Homo sapiens: one gene and its partner. The protein of the gene in region 2 purifies or fractionates together with the protein of the main gene of each other region. This does not show direct contact. Each region holds a gene or a part of one and is shown on either strand. Other genes may lie near its edges.

Region 1 (7,877 bases), on a different chromosome or scaffold from region 2:
AGTGTTAGCCTGGCCAGGGTGTCAGTTTTCCTCCCCTCCCATCTTTCCGAGGTACAGAAGAGAAGCGAGCGCGTTAGGAGAGCAGAACCTCCAAAACCTGAGGTTGTAGATTCCACTGAGAGCAGTAAGTAGGATTTGAGGAAGTGTGACCTGGGAGTTCTGGGTGTGGAAAAGGTCCGAAAGTGGCATGCGGCAGGGCATGGATCTTCTAGCTCCTGCCGTCCTGCTCCATGAAGCGCATGAAGTGCCTGTCTCTGCTATGGGTTGGCATGGGAACCAGGGGCAGTGGGGGAAATTGAAAACAAGAGCAGTGAGAATGGCGAGTTTCCTGTTTCAGCTATGCCATCTCTGTCTCCGAATCTTCTCATTTAGAGCCTCTCCCTTTCCCTCCCTGGGAGGTTACAGAGTAACCAAGGGAGAGAGACACCAAGGTCTTAAGATACTGATGTAACAAGGGCCAGGGTGTAAAGGCCGGAACAACAGGGATCCCAGGAGAGGGACTGAACTGTTGGTCAGGGGATGGTTGGAGACCTGGTTTGGTGGCCTTTCTCATGTCCATCCCCCCACTTTCTCAGTTCCAGTGTCAGATGAGGATTCTGATGCCATGGTAGATGACCCCAATGATGAGGACTTTGTGCCATTCCGGCCCCGGCGCTCTCCTCGCATGTCCCTACGCTCAAGTGTGTCACAAAGGGCCGGGCGCTCTGCAGTGGGCACCAAGATGACTTGTGCACATTGCCGGACACCACTGCAGAAGGGGCAGACTGCCTATCAGCGCAAGGGGCTGCCTCAGCTCTTCTGCTCGTCATCCTGCCTCACCACTTTCTCCAAGAAGCCCTCGGGCAAAAAGACCTGTACCTTCTGCAAGAAGTGCGTGAGGGTCTTGGGGGCTATGCAGAGGGCAGGGATCTGGGCAGGAGTATGAGTAAGACAGAGACTGTTGGTAAGAACCTAGCAGGATGGAGCTGGGCGAGAGAGTGATGTAGGGAGAGAGTCAGAGTATTTGGCTCTGTGGTCATTGATCCTGGAGGAGGGGCGGAAGCTGAGGAAATGAGAGGGTGGTCTTGAGTGAATATTCAAACCTGTTCCCACCTCTAGGGAGATCTGGAACACCAAGGACTCGGTTGTGGCGCAGACTGGTTCTGGAGGCTCCTTCCATGAGTTCTGCACATCCGTCTGTCTCTCCCTGTATGAGGCCCAGCAGCAGCGCCCGATCCCCCAGTCTGGGGATCCCGCCGACGCTACTCGCTGCAGCATATGCCAGAAGACTGGAGAGGTGAGGACACTCAGTGGGGGCTGATTTACAGAGCCTGGCCAGCCCTGACCTGCCCCTCCCATCCTGGGGCTGCAGGGTCCAGGCCCTGTGGAAAGGGGAGTGGGGAGGAAAGGCGGCCATCATGAGGGAGCGTATTCAAGGACAGAGCTTCTCCAGGATGTGCACAGCTGGCCTTCCTTACCTCCCAGGACCTCACCATCAAGTCGGCAGCCTGCGGCGCAGGTTGGGGGGTCCCTGGGCCCACTGTCTGCTGTGAAGGTCTAGGGTGAGGTGGGGGGCTGACCTTGCATTGGGGTGGGCGGTGGTGGCCAGGCCCTAGCTCAGGGTGCGTGTATGTGTGTGGCAGGTCCTGCACGAGGTCAGCAATGGCAGCGTGGTACACCGGCTCTGCAGCGATTCTTGCTTCTCCAAATTCCGGGCCAACAAGGGACTGAAAACCAACTGTTGTGACCAGTGTGGGGCTTACATCTACACCAAGACCGGGAGTCCTGGCCCTGAGCTCCTCTTCCACGAGGGCCAACAAAAGCGGTTCTGCAACACAACCTGCTTGGGGGCGTACAAGAAGGTGGGGCCGAGGGAGTAGTGCATTAGAGGGCTGTGGAAGGGGGTGTGGTTCTTGGGTTATAAATAAAGGTGGCTGATGGGTCAAGGGCTGGGAGAAATAAAACAAATAAAGGGGGTTTCAATTGTATCCGTTATGTTTTATTTTTGAAGCTGGCTGGTGGATACACAGGTCTTTGTTACATCATCATCTATACTTTTTTTGTATGCCTGAAATATTTCATGTTTAAAACATTTAAAAAATAAAAGTGAAGGGACAAATCCAGCCTCAGCCTCTCCTTCCCCATCCTCACAGAAAAACACACGTGTGTACCCATGTGTCTGGTGCAAGACCCTGTGTAAGAACTTTGAGATGCTATCACATGTGGATCGTAATGGCAAGACCAGCTTGTTCTGTTCCCTGTGCTGTACCACTTCTTACAAAGTGAAGCAGGCAGGGCTCACTGGTAGGTGCAAAGCCCTCTTCTCTGAGTCCCCTGCTGGCCTTCTCTCTACCTCCCATACTCCCCTCTTCCAGAGTAATCCTTGCTGCCCGACCTCAGTCCCAACCACATCTCCCCATGGATTTTCTGTTCGTCTCTTACACTGCCTTACACCTTCTGTGTGCTCTCTCTCTCCCTCTCTCTTTCTCTTTTCCTCTCTCTCTTTCTCTCTATGCCCCAGGCCCTCCCCGACCCTGCAGCTTCTGCCGCCGCAGCCTCTCTGACCCCTGTTACTACAACAAGGTTGACCGCACAGTCTACCAGTTCTGCAGCCCCAGCTGCTGGACCAAGTTCCAGGTACTCCAGACCCTGGACCAGGGATAGAAGGGTTTGGCAACATAAAGAGGGTTGGAGAATTGGGGTAGGCAGGCCTGGGCAGAGCAAAGAACAAGCCTGACTCCCCTTCCCCACCGCTGCACACATCTTGCCCCTCCCTTACTTGTCTTCCTTCCCTCCAGCGCACAAGCCCTGAGGGGGGCATTCACCTGAGCTGTCACTACTGTCACAGCCTCTTCAGTGGCAAGCCTGAGGTCTTGGACTGGCAGGTAAGAGCCCCACCCCCACCCACGTCTTGCCACACGACCAGACTGTCTGAAGGGGTCCTTCCACTTGGCCCCTGCTGGGGCCAGATGTTACAGCTTGTCCTCCCTGCCCTGTGCCCCCACCTCAGGACCAAGTGTTCCAGTTCTGCTGCCGTGATTGCTGTGAGGACTTCAAGCGGCTTCGGGGTGTGGTGTCCCAGTGTGAGCACTGTCGGCAGGAGAAACTCTTGCATGAGAAACTCCGATTCAGCGGAGTGGAGAAAAGCTTCTGCAGCGAAGGTAAGGAGATGGGGAAGGGCAGAAGACACTATAACTCCCAGCCAGGGAGAATGGAGGAGAAGGGAGGGAGGCCGGGAAAGTGGTCCATGAGGCAGGGCCTTCTGCCCGGGATGTTCTACCCCCATCTCCCCTAAAGTTTTGGGCACAAGGGGCTGCTTAGAGAGAGGTTTCAGGTATAGCACCTTGAAAAGGTTGGGTCTCTTGCCCTTGGGTATCTGTGTCTCTGGACTCTCTTTCCTCTTCTCCTCTTTCCAGGCTGTGTGCTGCTGTACAAACAGGACTTCACTAAGAAGCTGGGCTTGTGCTGTATCACTTGTACTTACTGCTCCCAGACCTGCCAGCGCGGAGTCACCGAGCAACTGGATGGCAGCACCTGGGACTTCTGCAGTGAGGACTGTAAGAGCAAGTACCTGCTGTGGTACTGCAAGGTAAGGAGGGTCAGCATGCGAGCGAGGCGGGAAAGAGGGCAGTGGGGAGCACGGGCTGTGGTACTGAGCTCGGGGTGTGGACAGATCTCCAGGGAGGGCAGCCAGCCTTCCATCTCTAAGCTGGCCCGATCTCCAAGGGGAGGAGCATGGCTTATCCCGGGGGAAAGAAAGGGCCCAACGCATTTTAGGGAGGCAGGTCTGACCATCCTTTTGACATCCTCAGGCTGCCCGGTGCCATGCGTGTAAGCGCCAGGGGAAGCTGCTGGAGACCATCCACTGGCGTGGGCAGATCCGTCATTTCTGCAACCAGCAGTGTCTTCTGCGTTTCTATAGCCAGCAGAACCAACCCAACCTGGATACCCAGAGTGGGCCCGAGAGCCTCCTGAACAGTGAGTCCCAGGCAGGGGGTACACTCTGTTAGAGGGAGCCTGGACTCTCCTAATCCTAAGCCTAGCCCCTTTCTCCTTCCTCTTGCGTTCAGCTCACCCCTGGCCAGATAGGGTGCTAGTACTGTGAACTGTATTCTCTTTTAGCTTCCGAACCCTGCAGGTACCGGGGGAGTCTTATTTAAAGCTTCTTGGAGTTAGCATCTACTGATTGTCTATGAAATATATATTGTTAGGGAGTGGGTGCCTTTCCTGGTAGGATGGAGCATATAGGGGTTATGGTTACGTTTCTGAGATAAGGAAATCTCAGCATAAACTCTACATTTAGTGAGACTGAAGACTGCTATTTCTAGAATGTTACCCCTGCCCCTCCACAACTCCAGGGATAACAGACTCTTCAGGCTATCTAAGTGGAAGGTCTCAAATGTGGGTTTTGGGGGAAAATGTAATGTTTCATTCTCCAGGAACAAATAATCTTTTAGGCTGCTATTGCTGGGGCATAGAGGAGACTAGATCTGGGATGGCAAGGGGGTCAAATCCTAGAAGTTCCCATCTGTATTTGGTGTACCTGTTAATGAAGCTCTCCTGGAACAGGGGTAAGGAAAATGGAGAGCTAGTCCCTTGGATGAGAGCATTCATTTGTTTTGATCTACAGGTCAGTCTCCTGAGTCAAAACCCCAGACACCCTCTCAAACCAAAGTGGAGAACAGCAACACAGTGAGGACCCCAGAGGAAAATGGGAATTTGGGCAAGGTCGGGGCAAAAGCCAAGGGGGAGGATAATCTCAGAGGAGGGTACGGCGGTTGGTGGCACAAATGTTCCTCTGTCTTTGCAGATCCCTGTGAAGACCCGATCAGCTCCCACTGCTCCCACCCCTCCACCCCCACCACCCCCAGCAACACCCCGCAAAAACAAGGCTGCCATGTGTAAGCCACTGATGCAGAATCGGGGCGTCTCCTGCAAGGTGGAGATGAAGTCCAAAGGAAGTCAAACAGGTGAGCCAGGGTACCTCGATGCCACAGGCTGTATTCCAGAGTCCTAGGCCTGCCAGCCCTATGTCCGTGAGCTGGACAAGGGGATTTCTTAGGTAGCTGAAGCCTCATTCATATGGTTGTCCTAGAATCATAGAGGTGTCTTTCAGCCTTTGATTCAAGGGCAGTTTTGTGACACTGAGCATGTTAGAGCTTTTGGTGGGTCAGATGTGACCAGTCCAGCAGGGTCTCTGAGAAGACCCCTTTCTTATCCACAGAAGAGTGGAAGCCACAGGTGATCGTGCTGCCCATCCCAGTGCCCATCTTCGTGCCAGTGCCTATGCATCTGTACTGCCAGAAAGTCCCGGTGCCTTTCTCGATGCCTATCCCGGTGAGTTTCCCTGCCCTTCCTGGCTGGGTCCTCCTTTCCCCTTACTCTCATCAACTGTCCCCCTTCACTCATCATCTGTCCCCCCAACTTCCCCCCAACTGCTGGTGTGGTTCTTGGCATTTAGTTGGGATTCGTGCCTCCAGGTGCCTGTGCCCATGTTCTTGCCCACTACCTTGGAGAGCACAGACAAGATTGTAGAGACCATTGAGGAGCTGAAGGTGAAGATCCCTTCCAACCCCTTGGAGGCCGACATCCTGGCTATGGCAGAAATGATTGCAGAGGCTGAGGAGTTAGACAAGGCCTCATCTGACCTTTGTGGTATGCCATAGATGGTGGCGACGAGGGAGACAGGGTGCTACCAGCATGTCTCTGCCCGAGGGGGTGGTATTGGTGATCTTGGTGCCTAGTAGAATGGGAGGATAGTTGGGATCAGTCCCTGAAAGCTTGTGAGGGTGCTAGCAGGAGCTTGTAACCACTGAGCCAACTTCTCTGCTTCCCAGATCTTGTGAGCAACCAGAGTGCAGAGGGACTCCTGGAAGACTGTGACCTGTTTGGGCCTGCTCGAGATGATGTCCTGGCCATGGCAGTCAAGATGGCCAATGTCTTGGATGAGCCTGGGCAAGACTTGGAGGCAGACTTCCCTAAGAGTGAGTAAGATTGGAGCCATGCCCACTGAGTATGGTAGCATTTGTGCCATCAGGAAGGGAGTGTCCCTTGTGTCCCTGAGCATGACCCTGAAAAGTGTTCATTGTGATTCTAAGACGGAAGGTTCTCACAGGGAGCAGTGCCAGAGACACCAGGACAGGTGCACTCTTTTAGACTTCTGAGTCATGCTTTTTTTTTTTTTTTTTTTTTTTTAATTTTTAAGCTGAAAAAAAACATAAAATTTTACCATGTTCAACATGTTTACGGTTCAGTAGTTCACATTGCTGTGTTTTGCGTTTCTGTGCCTCTGAGCATGCTTTTTGGTATAGCTTTACTGGTTCCTTTGGCTCATCTAGTGTCAAGTGGGCAAGTAGCAGGGGTGGGGCAGGAGGGCTGCAGGGTTGAGATCTTAAGAAATTGATTTCTTCTTTCTTTCCTTTTCATTAGATCCTCTGGACATTAATCCCAGTGTAGACTTCCTCTTTGATTGTGGCCTGGTAGGGCCTGAGGATGTGTCTACTGAACAAGACCTTCCCCGAACCATGAGGAAGGTAGGGCTGGGGCTACTGTATGTACAAAAGAAGAATGGAGGCCCAAAGGGGAGATGATGCGAGAGCCAAGCCAGCAACCATAGTTTGACCTTCCCTAACCTCCTTTCTCCAACACTAGAAGTACTGAGATAAAGCCAAACTTTGCTCTCCCCCCATCTCACAAGGTCATCAAAGCTGTTCCTGGGGCTCTGTGCTATGGAAGCTTGCTGTGTGCTTACATCAGCCCCTGCCCCGGCCAGCAGTAAATATGGTGCTGACTAGCTTTCACCTTGCCTCTGGCCTTACCTCTGCCATGCCCCTGCTTTCTCTTCCCCTCCAGGGTCAAAAGCGGCTGGTGCTTTCCGAAAGCTGCTCCCGGGACTCCATGAGCAGTCAGCCTAGTTGTACCGGGCTCAACTATTCATATGGTGTCAATGCTTGGAAGTGCTGGGTGCAGTCAAAATATGCCAATGGAGAAACCAGCAAGGGTGATGAGCTGCGCTTTGGCCGTAAGTACTTGGGGATGGGGGGTGTGGGGAGGCAGGGACAGGGAGGAGGAGGGGAAAGGGGAGAAGGGGCTGGGCCTGTGATTCAGCTGAAGATGTCTAGAAGTGATAAGGGTGTGATCCCTTAAGGATGCCCTGTGAAGATGGGGAGGAGTTGTAGATTAAAGGGAAATGCTGTCTAGGTTCCAGGTTAGGGGCTCTTTCTGTAATTGTTCAGGAGCTAGGCATGACTAAGGGATGGAGGGGTTAATGGTGATGGAGCTAAGTGAAATTCTCCATGTAGAGTTTTTCTTAATCCTGTCCCTGCACAACATATCACTGCAGCCAAACCCATGCGTATCAAAGAGGATATTCTCGCCTGCTCAGCTGCTGAGCTCAACTACGGTCTGGCCCAGTTTGTGAGAGAAATCACTCGGCCCAATGGTGAACGATATGAACCTGACAGTATCTACTATTTGTGTCTTGGCATCCAGCAGGTACCTCTTGTGCACCACCTCACTTCCTGTCACTCTTAACACAGCAGGCAGGGTCTAAACAGAAATGATTCTGGGTTAGGCACGGTGGCTCACGCCTGTAATCCCAACACTTTGGGAGGCTGAGGCAGGAGGATCGCTTCAAGCCAGGAGTTTGAGACCAGCCTGGGCAACAAAGTGATACCCATCTACCCAAAAAATATTTTTTTAATGAAAAAAAAAAGCAGTTATTCTGTTGCACTCCCTGTTCCTCATCTTGTCCCCTACCTGAAGCAGGCAGCTTGCCTTTAATCTCCTACTCCAAATAGAACATGAGATATCAATACTCTTCTAAAATCAAAACTGCATTCCAGGACCGTTGGCCAAGGAGCAGTCTTCATTGCTATCCAGGTCCCCTTTGTAATCTT
Region 2 (7,877 bases):
ATTCGTACCAAACTATTTACTAAGATATGGTTTAATAAGAAGGACAAGACACCAAACATCAAAAGAGCTTCAGAGAGACATCTCTTTAGCAATACATTCAAAATTTTGTTACTTATGTTTTCAAAGTAACATACATCTTCTGGCTTACATGCATTTAAAGGACACACGTTAGGTTATCTAGGTTATGTAGCAGAGTCATTCACGGAGAATTTACCAAGTCATCTGGGGGAAATGGAGCAAAAGCAGCTATGCGTCATCACTCAACAGCATAACCTGCAAATCCAATTCACCCAGAAGAAAGAGAGCAAAACCACCACCCAGTTCTAGTGAAATAGTTTAAATGCACAATCCTTTGTCCTGATAAAAAAGTCTTGGCTGGGCAAGGTGGCTCGCGCCTGTAATCCGAGCACTTTGGAGGCCAAGGCTGGCGGATCACTTGAGGTCAGAAGTCTGAGACTAGCCTGGCCAACATGGTGAAACCCCGTTTCTACTAAAAATACAAAAATTAGCCAAGCATGGTGGTGCAGGCCTGTAATCCCAGCTACTCGGGAGGCTGAGGCAGGAGAACTGCTTGAGCCCGGGAGGCGGAGGTTGCAGAGATCGCGCAACCTCACTCCACCCTGGGTGACAGAGCAAGTCTCTGTCTTTAAAAAAAAAAAAAAGAAGAAGAAGAAAGAAGAAGTCTTAAGGACTTGCAGGACCACCCCACCCTTTTACCTTCTGTGGCTGGAACTTCCAACTGGCTTGGTTCAGCTGATTCTAAAGAGAAACACAGAGACTGATTTCCACATTGTTCAACAGCTGCTTTATACTATGTAAAGAACCCAGGAGGAGGAAGAGGAGAAAAGCCCTCTAGACTCTGTACAAACACAGGTGCATGATGAAACAATGCTCACGGTCTTGAGATGGAGCACACGATTATCCAAGTGTACTTTCAAATTTCTGTTTTTCAAATGTGGTCCTAAGTTCACATATGCAACTGAAGTTTGAAAGAGCAGAGTCTTAACATAGCTCTACCATGAAAACAAGCTCCTTAGTTATGCTTTCTCCCTTATCCTTCTGTTTACTCCCTTTAATAAAAGCTTTTCATTACTTTTTTTGTTTTTCTTCGTATGTTTGTTTTTTTGAGACAGAATCTCCTTTCTGTTGCCCAGGCTGGAGTGCAGTGGCACGATCTTGGCTCACTGCGACCTCCGCCTCCCAGGCTCAAGCGGTTCTCCTGCCTCAGCCTCCTGAGTAGCCGGCACACGCCACCACGTCTGGCTAGTTTTTGTATTCTTAGTAGAGACGGGGTTGCACCATGTTGGCCAGGCTGGTCTCGAACTCCTGATCTCAAGTGATCTACCCTTCTCAGCCTTCCAAAGTGCTGGGATAACAGGCGTGAGCCACCGCGCCCAGTCTCATTACTTTCAATGACTCACACAGCACCAGGCCATTCCACTTGTTTTTTAAGGAATTTTTTAAGAGCACAATGTGTACATTTCTACTGAAGAACATTTTGCTCACTGACTTATGGCAGACATTAGAAATGGATGGCAGAGTCAGGTTAAAGTGACGGCCCTCTTGCTCTGCCATTTCATCCTACCCATTAATCCTGGGGTTCCTGATGTTAGGCCTGAGCTGGGATAGGGGGTGCAAATGGTCTGCAGCCCCCAGTTCTCAATCAGGACCCACAGCTTGAATTTATGTTTTGATCAGCTGTCAAACCCAGGAGTGAAAACCACAGAGAAGCATGTGTGTGCTGTGTAACTGAGTCCCCTCAGGGCAGGTGACTGAGAGCCAAAGCCACACGCAGGCACGCCATTGTGCCACTGTGCAGGCAGGAGTAGCTCCGGGCCCTCCCCTGCCTCGCTCACCTTGTATCACGGGGCCTTCTGACTCACTCTGATCAACCAGCTCTGAAAATGAAGCAGATTGGTTTAAATAATGTAAGGATGTGTTGTTCCCTTGGAAAAGCATTTTAACATACATTTGCTGTTTCCCTCAAGATGAGAAGGAAACAAACCTCAGAGTTCTGATATGTCCCTCAGAATCACTAATTCACAGTAATTACCATAAAACTCTATACCACACTACCGCACAAGAACAGGAACAAAAGAGAACATTTTATTTATTTATTTATTGGGACAGAGTTTTGCTCTTGTTGCCCAGGCTGGAGTGCAATGGCACGATCTCAGCTCACTGCAACCTCCACCTCTAGGATTCAAGCAACTCTCCTGCCTCAGCCTCCTGAGTAGCTGGGATTACAGGCACGTGCCACCACACCCAGCTGATTTTTGTATTTTTAGTAGAGACAGGCTTTCACCATGTTGGACGGGCTGGTCTCCAACTCCCAACCTCAACTGATCCGCCTGCCTCAGCCTCCCAAACTGCTGGGATTACAGGCGTGAGCCACCACGCCTGGCCTCACTTTTATACATTTTTAATAATAAAGTTAAGAAAACAAAACACACTCGCAAAATTAAGTTTGGCTCAAAATACTATTGAAAATGACATCAACGTTAAGGAATTGAAAGGACATTTGTTCACTCGCTCAGCAATATTTGAGAGCCCCATGTGTGCCAGGCACTGTGCTGAAATACTAACAGAAGCAGGCACATTGTGACTTACTTTGTAACGAAATCCAAGCACAGTAATTATAACAGTCATAAAAGCAGTAATAAATATAGATTGTATTCGCTGAGCACATACTGTAGGCTAAACACATACTAGAGGCTAGACACTGTTCTAGGTTAGGGGGATGCAAACTCTTTTCTTGCAGAGCCAATTAGTAAATATTTTAGGTTTTGCAGGCACACACTTGCTGCTGCCATCTCTCAGTTCTGCCATAAACAAATGGACACGATGGTGGTTTCAATAAAACTTTATGCATACACGTCGGCAGGAGCTTGCTGACACCTGTTCCAGATGCTTTCCATCTACTGGAACGACTCCCCCAAAATCGGTGCTATTATTACCATTTTATGATTAAGTGCATCGAGGATAGGAAGTTAAGAAGCTTGAATAATTTTACAACTAGGAAGTGCCTGGTGTTTTTACTGAGGGCTAAAACAAGTATTTGGCCTGGTTACTGACATAGGTGAAGTAACGTGATATACGTTAAGCATGTATACACACTCACACGCACACACGTCAGACCCCAGGAAAAAACAAAAACAAAACACTTCACAAAATACTCACGGTTATTAATCACAAGTCCTGGAAATGGTCTAAAGAGAGAAACAAATTGTAAAGTATAACAATTTATTTTCACTCTGTAAGAATTTACAGGTATAACTGTTTATTCAACTCATATCTAGCCCACGTCATTTACGTACTACAATGAGAAGTATTATCCGTGACCTTATAAGCTTATGGAAGAGATAGATACGTATCAATAATAAGAACACTGTTAGAAAGTGTTAAGCTACTAGTAAATGGAGGAAAAACAAAAAATAGAAACGCAGAGCAGGGAACAGAGTGATTCTAAGTTTAACATACGGAAGAACGGAAGGGGCTTTTTGCCTAACTCCTGGGAGTGATATGGAGAATGACGGTGGGTGAAGTGGAACCAAAATATGAGATTTTGAGGGAAAGAAGATTGGAAGAAGACGAGTGTATGAGAAGCCTCAAGAGGATTTATTATGAGATTTCTGAGTGCCAGTTCCAAGAGACCTGAACTAGAGACAGTGGCAATCTGATGATGAAATGATTGGGTAGGTTGAGTCGTAGCTGTTTCTGGGGGGCTGGAAGACAAAGGGGAAGATAACCTGGGGTTGGTGCTCAGGTGGGCATCTCTTACAGTGACAAGGACGTGGGAAGGAATGTGGCACTCACAATGGTGTCAGAGGTGAGTACAATCATCATGCCTGCTCTACGGGAAGGAGCTGACACTCTCAGTGGGAACAACGATCAATCTCATTTACAGACAAAGAACAGAGTGACCTGGCTAACAAATGGCTGATGCAAGGTTGAATCCGTCTGACCCGAAGCCTGTGACAAGGCGCCCTAAGACAGAGGTTGACAAAGTTCTTTTTTTCTTGTGATGGAGTCTCACTCTGTCGTCCAGGCTGGAGTGCAGTGGCATGATCTTGGCTCATTGCAACCTCCACCTCCTGGGTTCAAGCGACTATCCTGCCTCAGCCTCCCGAGTAGCTGGGATTACAGGCACCCGCCATCATGCCCAGCTAACTGTTTTATTTTTGTAGAGATGGGATTTCACCATGTTGGCCAGGCTGGTCTGGAACTCCTGACCTCAGGTGATCTGCCTGCCTTGGCCTCCCAAAATGCTGGGATTACAGGCGTTAGCCACTGTGCCTAGCTAAGGTTTTTCTACAAAGTGCTAGAGAGTAAATATTTTAGACTTTGGAGGCCATGCCTTCTCAGTCCCAGCTACTTACTCACTGTGACAGGAAAGCAGCCATGGATAATACGGGTGTAGCTGTGTTTCAGGAAGACTCTAAAAATAGGAGGCAGCCTGAATTTGGCAAACAGTCCTAGTTTGCCAACCCTTTGCCAAAGAATTAAAAGAGTCAGCTTAGTTCGTAGAAGCACATCTGACATTCTAATGATGACACAAGTTATTTTGATTTGTTGATTGCACAGCATAGGAAGCCGGATTCGATGACTACCTGTGGCTGCATTTTAGAAGAGTCAGCCTCATGAGCTCCAGATTCGCTCCTGTGACTAAGCAGGAAACTCTCACTTACCTAATGACCGTGAATTTGATAAACTCGGCAGAGTCTAAGATCCTTCTCATGGAGCTGATTTCCAGGTAGCTGGGGGCTTTGAAGGACACCCCCGGGGGCATGCCATCAACTACCACACAGCCAGGGTTAATTGTGATTTTCCTGTAGGGAACTTTCACAGGAAAACCCATACCAATAGCTTCACCTACAGGGACAGTGAGACAAACAGCACAACAGCACAGATTAACCCACCGCCTTAAACAGCCTGTCAAAAGCACAAGATCAACATTTATTTTAAAGACTGTCTCTGCTGTTAACTAAGGTCTTTGTACACTTCAAACAAATTTAAATATGAACCTTAAATTTTTTTTTTTTTTGAGACAGAGTCTTGCTCTGTCACCCAGGTTGGAGTGTGGTGGCTTGATCTCAGCTCACTGCAATCTCTGCCTCCCAGGTTCAAGCAATTCTCGTGCCACAGCCTCCTGAGTAGCTGGGATTACAGGTGTGCACCACCATACCCGGCTAATTTTTTGAATTTTTTAGTAGAGACAGGGTTTCACTATGTTGGCCAGGCTGGTCTCGAACTCCTGGCCTCAACTGATCCACCTGCCTCGGGCTCCCAAAGTGCTGGGATTACAAGTGTGAGCCACACTGCCAGATGGTGAACCTTAAATTCATTAACTTTCATACTGACAATCAATAGTGTAACACTAATGGTATCTTATTAAATAAATTTAGCACAAACAACTCACTTTTAAATTTTAACTCCTTTTATATAGGATTACAACCATCCAACCATCATCTGCTGAAAAGATCTTATTAAAACAAATCTCTTTGCTTATAGCAACTGTACTTTGCAAATGCAAAACTTACCAAATTTCCGACTAAAGAGGTCATTCACTTGTTCTCTTAGCTGTCTAGCTTTTTCAACTTTCGAGAGTCTTTCATTATCATCATCTGAAACAGTTCAGAGAAAACCCAAAACTTAAATACTGCTTTTTTTTTTTTTTATGGTAAAGAGATGGTATCTCACGATGTTGCCCAGACTGGCCTTGAACTCTTGGGCTCAAGCGATCCTCCTGCCTAAGCCTCCCAAGTAGCCGAGACTACAGGTACAAGCCGCTGCTCAATGATGCACTTTTAATCCCAATTTTTAGGAGCTCTGTGTAATGTTTTCAAGCATTTTCCATTTTTTAATGATTTAAGTATTTGAGCACTTTGAGCTAATTAAATTTGAAATTGTTTAAAATAATGCCTAACTAAAAATGCTACAAATTTATTCTTGTTATAAAGACCTTTACCTGCTGTTTTATATAGATTTTTTTTTTTTCCCAGATGGAGTATGGCTCTGTCACCAAGGCTGGAGTGCACTGGCCCCATCTCGGCTCACTGCGACCTCCACCTCCCGGGTTCAAGCACTTCTCCTGCCTCAGCCTCCCAAGTAGCTGGGATTACAGCCACACACAACCAGGCCTGGCTAATTTTTCTTGTATGTTTAGTAGAGTCAGGGTTTCACCACGTTGGCTAGGCTGGTTTTGAATTCCTGACCTCAAGCGATCCTCCTGCCTCAGCCTCCCAAAGTGCTGGGATTACAGGCGTGAGCCACCGTGCCCGGTCTCATATAGACTTTTTTTAAGGAACAGACTAGCCATTTGGGTGGTTAACAGGATTTAGCTCATGCCAAGTGCCAAAACTTGCCGTTGCTGTTTGGAGAGCAACTGTATTTGGAAGGCAACTGCTGTAGGAGTCTGGGAGGAGCACCAGGCAACGTGTAATGTATCCGAGTCCCCGGATGAGCTGAGCAAACCTCTCTAGTTGGGAAAGTCCAAGAGGCCCTGAAGAGACCCCCAAAAACTCTGATGGAAGCAGAGAACTCATACCTGGAATTGTCACCTGAATGATGTTAAGGTCTTCAACACCTGATGCAGTAGTATTAACATTGGGTGATGAATTTATTTTTCCTGAAAATATACATTTAAAATCAGAATTTGTAGAAAACACGGTCAACATCTCTAATAATCATGCTGTCTGAGACTGTTTTATCTCAGTCCTGTTCAAGGTTCTTTCTTTCCATGGTAGATCATTTCAAGAAGACATGATGCCCCCTGAAGGGCTGCCTTTCACTGTTTTTCTCTTCCTGGGGGTACTTAGGAGATCATCACACACTCACAGAGCCACCCAATTATTAAATAACTAAAAATTGTGAAATAGCCTGAACTACAACTTTGAATGGGTTTTCTTTTTTCTTTTTGAGATGAGTCTTGCTCTGTTGTCCAGGCTGGAGTGCAGTGGTGCGATCTCGGCTCACTGCAACTTCCGCCTCCCGGGTTCAAGTGATTCTGCTGTCTCAGCCTCCTGAGTAGCTGGGATTATAGGCGCCTGCCACCACGCCTGGCTAATTTTTTATATTTTTAGTAGAGACAGGGTTTTGCCGTGTTGGCCAGGCTGGTCTCAAACTCCTGACCTCAGGTGATCCACCCACCTCAGCCTCCCAAAGTGCTGGGATTACAGGCGTGAACCACCATGCCTGGCCTCAATGGCTATTCTTTAAACAATGTTTGTAAACCACAGCTGCACAATGCATGCCTAAGAGCGTGTGTTCTATAGCAATGAAAATACAGAAAATACACTCACTGGGAGGGCTCTTAGAGGAGGTGCTCTCCTTAATCGCCGTCTCAAACATTTCGGGCCTATAGACAAAAGAGAAAAAAAATGTGCTGATCAAACAGTAAAACTCTAACATTAAAATTTAAACAACTCAAAGATTTACAAACCAGTAACTCTGTAAAGTCTAAATTCAATTCTTAGTCATGAAGAACAGAAATCACATGCTTATCTAAAGAACCACAGCCAAAAAGACAAACCACAATTGTAAATTTAACATCCATTGCTGCCTCTCATTGGCTGCCCTTCCCCTACACTGGTTTTATTGGCATCTTCTTTCCAAGGTTAGAATGTATCCTGAAAAGAATCAGCGCCAGAATTGAGGATGCAAAGAGAAAACGCCCCACAAACGCAGCATGGAAACACAAGATGGGCTGTGAAAACAGGAGCACTTGAGGCTCTCACTCCGGAAGCAGAAGCAGAGGGCTTAGAGGCTGCCAAACCTCTGCAGACCTGGCCAAAAGCATAAAAGGTGGCCATTGGCCGGGCGCGGTGGCTCACGCCTGTAATCCCAGCACTTTGGGAGGCCGAGGCAGGCGGATCATG

The links.
Region 1: the proteins of GTF2I (region 2) and ZMYM3 purify together in Homo sapiens (co-immunoprecipitation; 2 studies listed by BioGRID and IntAct, with this or other methods). This does not show direct contact.

What each region holds. Positions count from the first base shown.
Region 1 is NC_000023.11:71,243,425-71,251,301, reverse strand, and holds part of ZMYM3 (zinc finger MYM-type protein 3), read left to right. Parts: intron 1-57; coding exon 58-124; intron 125-575; coding exon 576-870; intron 871-1,098; coding exon 1,099-1,276; intron 1,277-1,622; coding exon 1,623-1,841; coding exon of another isoform or gene 1,842-1,859; exon of another isoform or gene 1,860-2,098; intron 2,099-2,132; coding exon 2,133-2,283; intron 2,284-2,500; coding exon 2,501-2,616; intron 2,617-2,777; coding exon 2,778-2,864; intron 2,865-2,989; coding exon 2,990-3,140; intron 3,141-3,395; coding exon 3,396-3,568; intron 3,569-3,791; coding exon 3,792-3,957; intron 3,958-4,609; coding exon 4,610-4,707; intron 4,708-4,789; coding exon 4,790-4,949; intron 4,950-5,203; coding exon 5,204-5,316; intron 5,317-5,459; coding exon 5,460-5,634; intron 5,635-5,816; coding exon 5,817-5,963; intron 5,964-6,408; coding exon 6,409-6,512; intron 6,513-6,831; coding exon 6,832-7,000; intron 7,001-7,321; coding exon 7,322-7,473; intron 7,474-7,877. UniProt on the Homo sapiens protein: Plays a role in the regulation of cell morphology and cytoskeletal organization.
Region 2 is NC_000007.14:74,750,841-74,758,717, reverse strand, and holds part of GTF2I (general transcription factor II-I), read right to left. Parts: intron 7,358-7,877; coding exon 7,302-7,357; intron 6,629-7,301; coding exon 6,548-6,628; intron 5,625-6,547; coding exon 5,541-5,624; intron 4,873-5,540; coding exon 4,689-4,872; intron 3,210-4,688; coding exon 3,181-3,209; intron 1,899-3,180; coding exon 1,857-1,898; intron 760-1,856; coding exon 718-759; intron 1-717. UniProt on the Homo sapiens protein: Interacts with the basal transcription machinery by coordinating the formation of a multiprotein complex at the C-FOS promoter, and linking specific signal responsive activator complexes.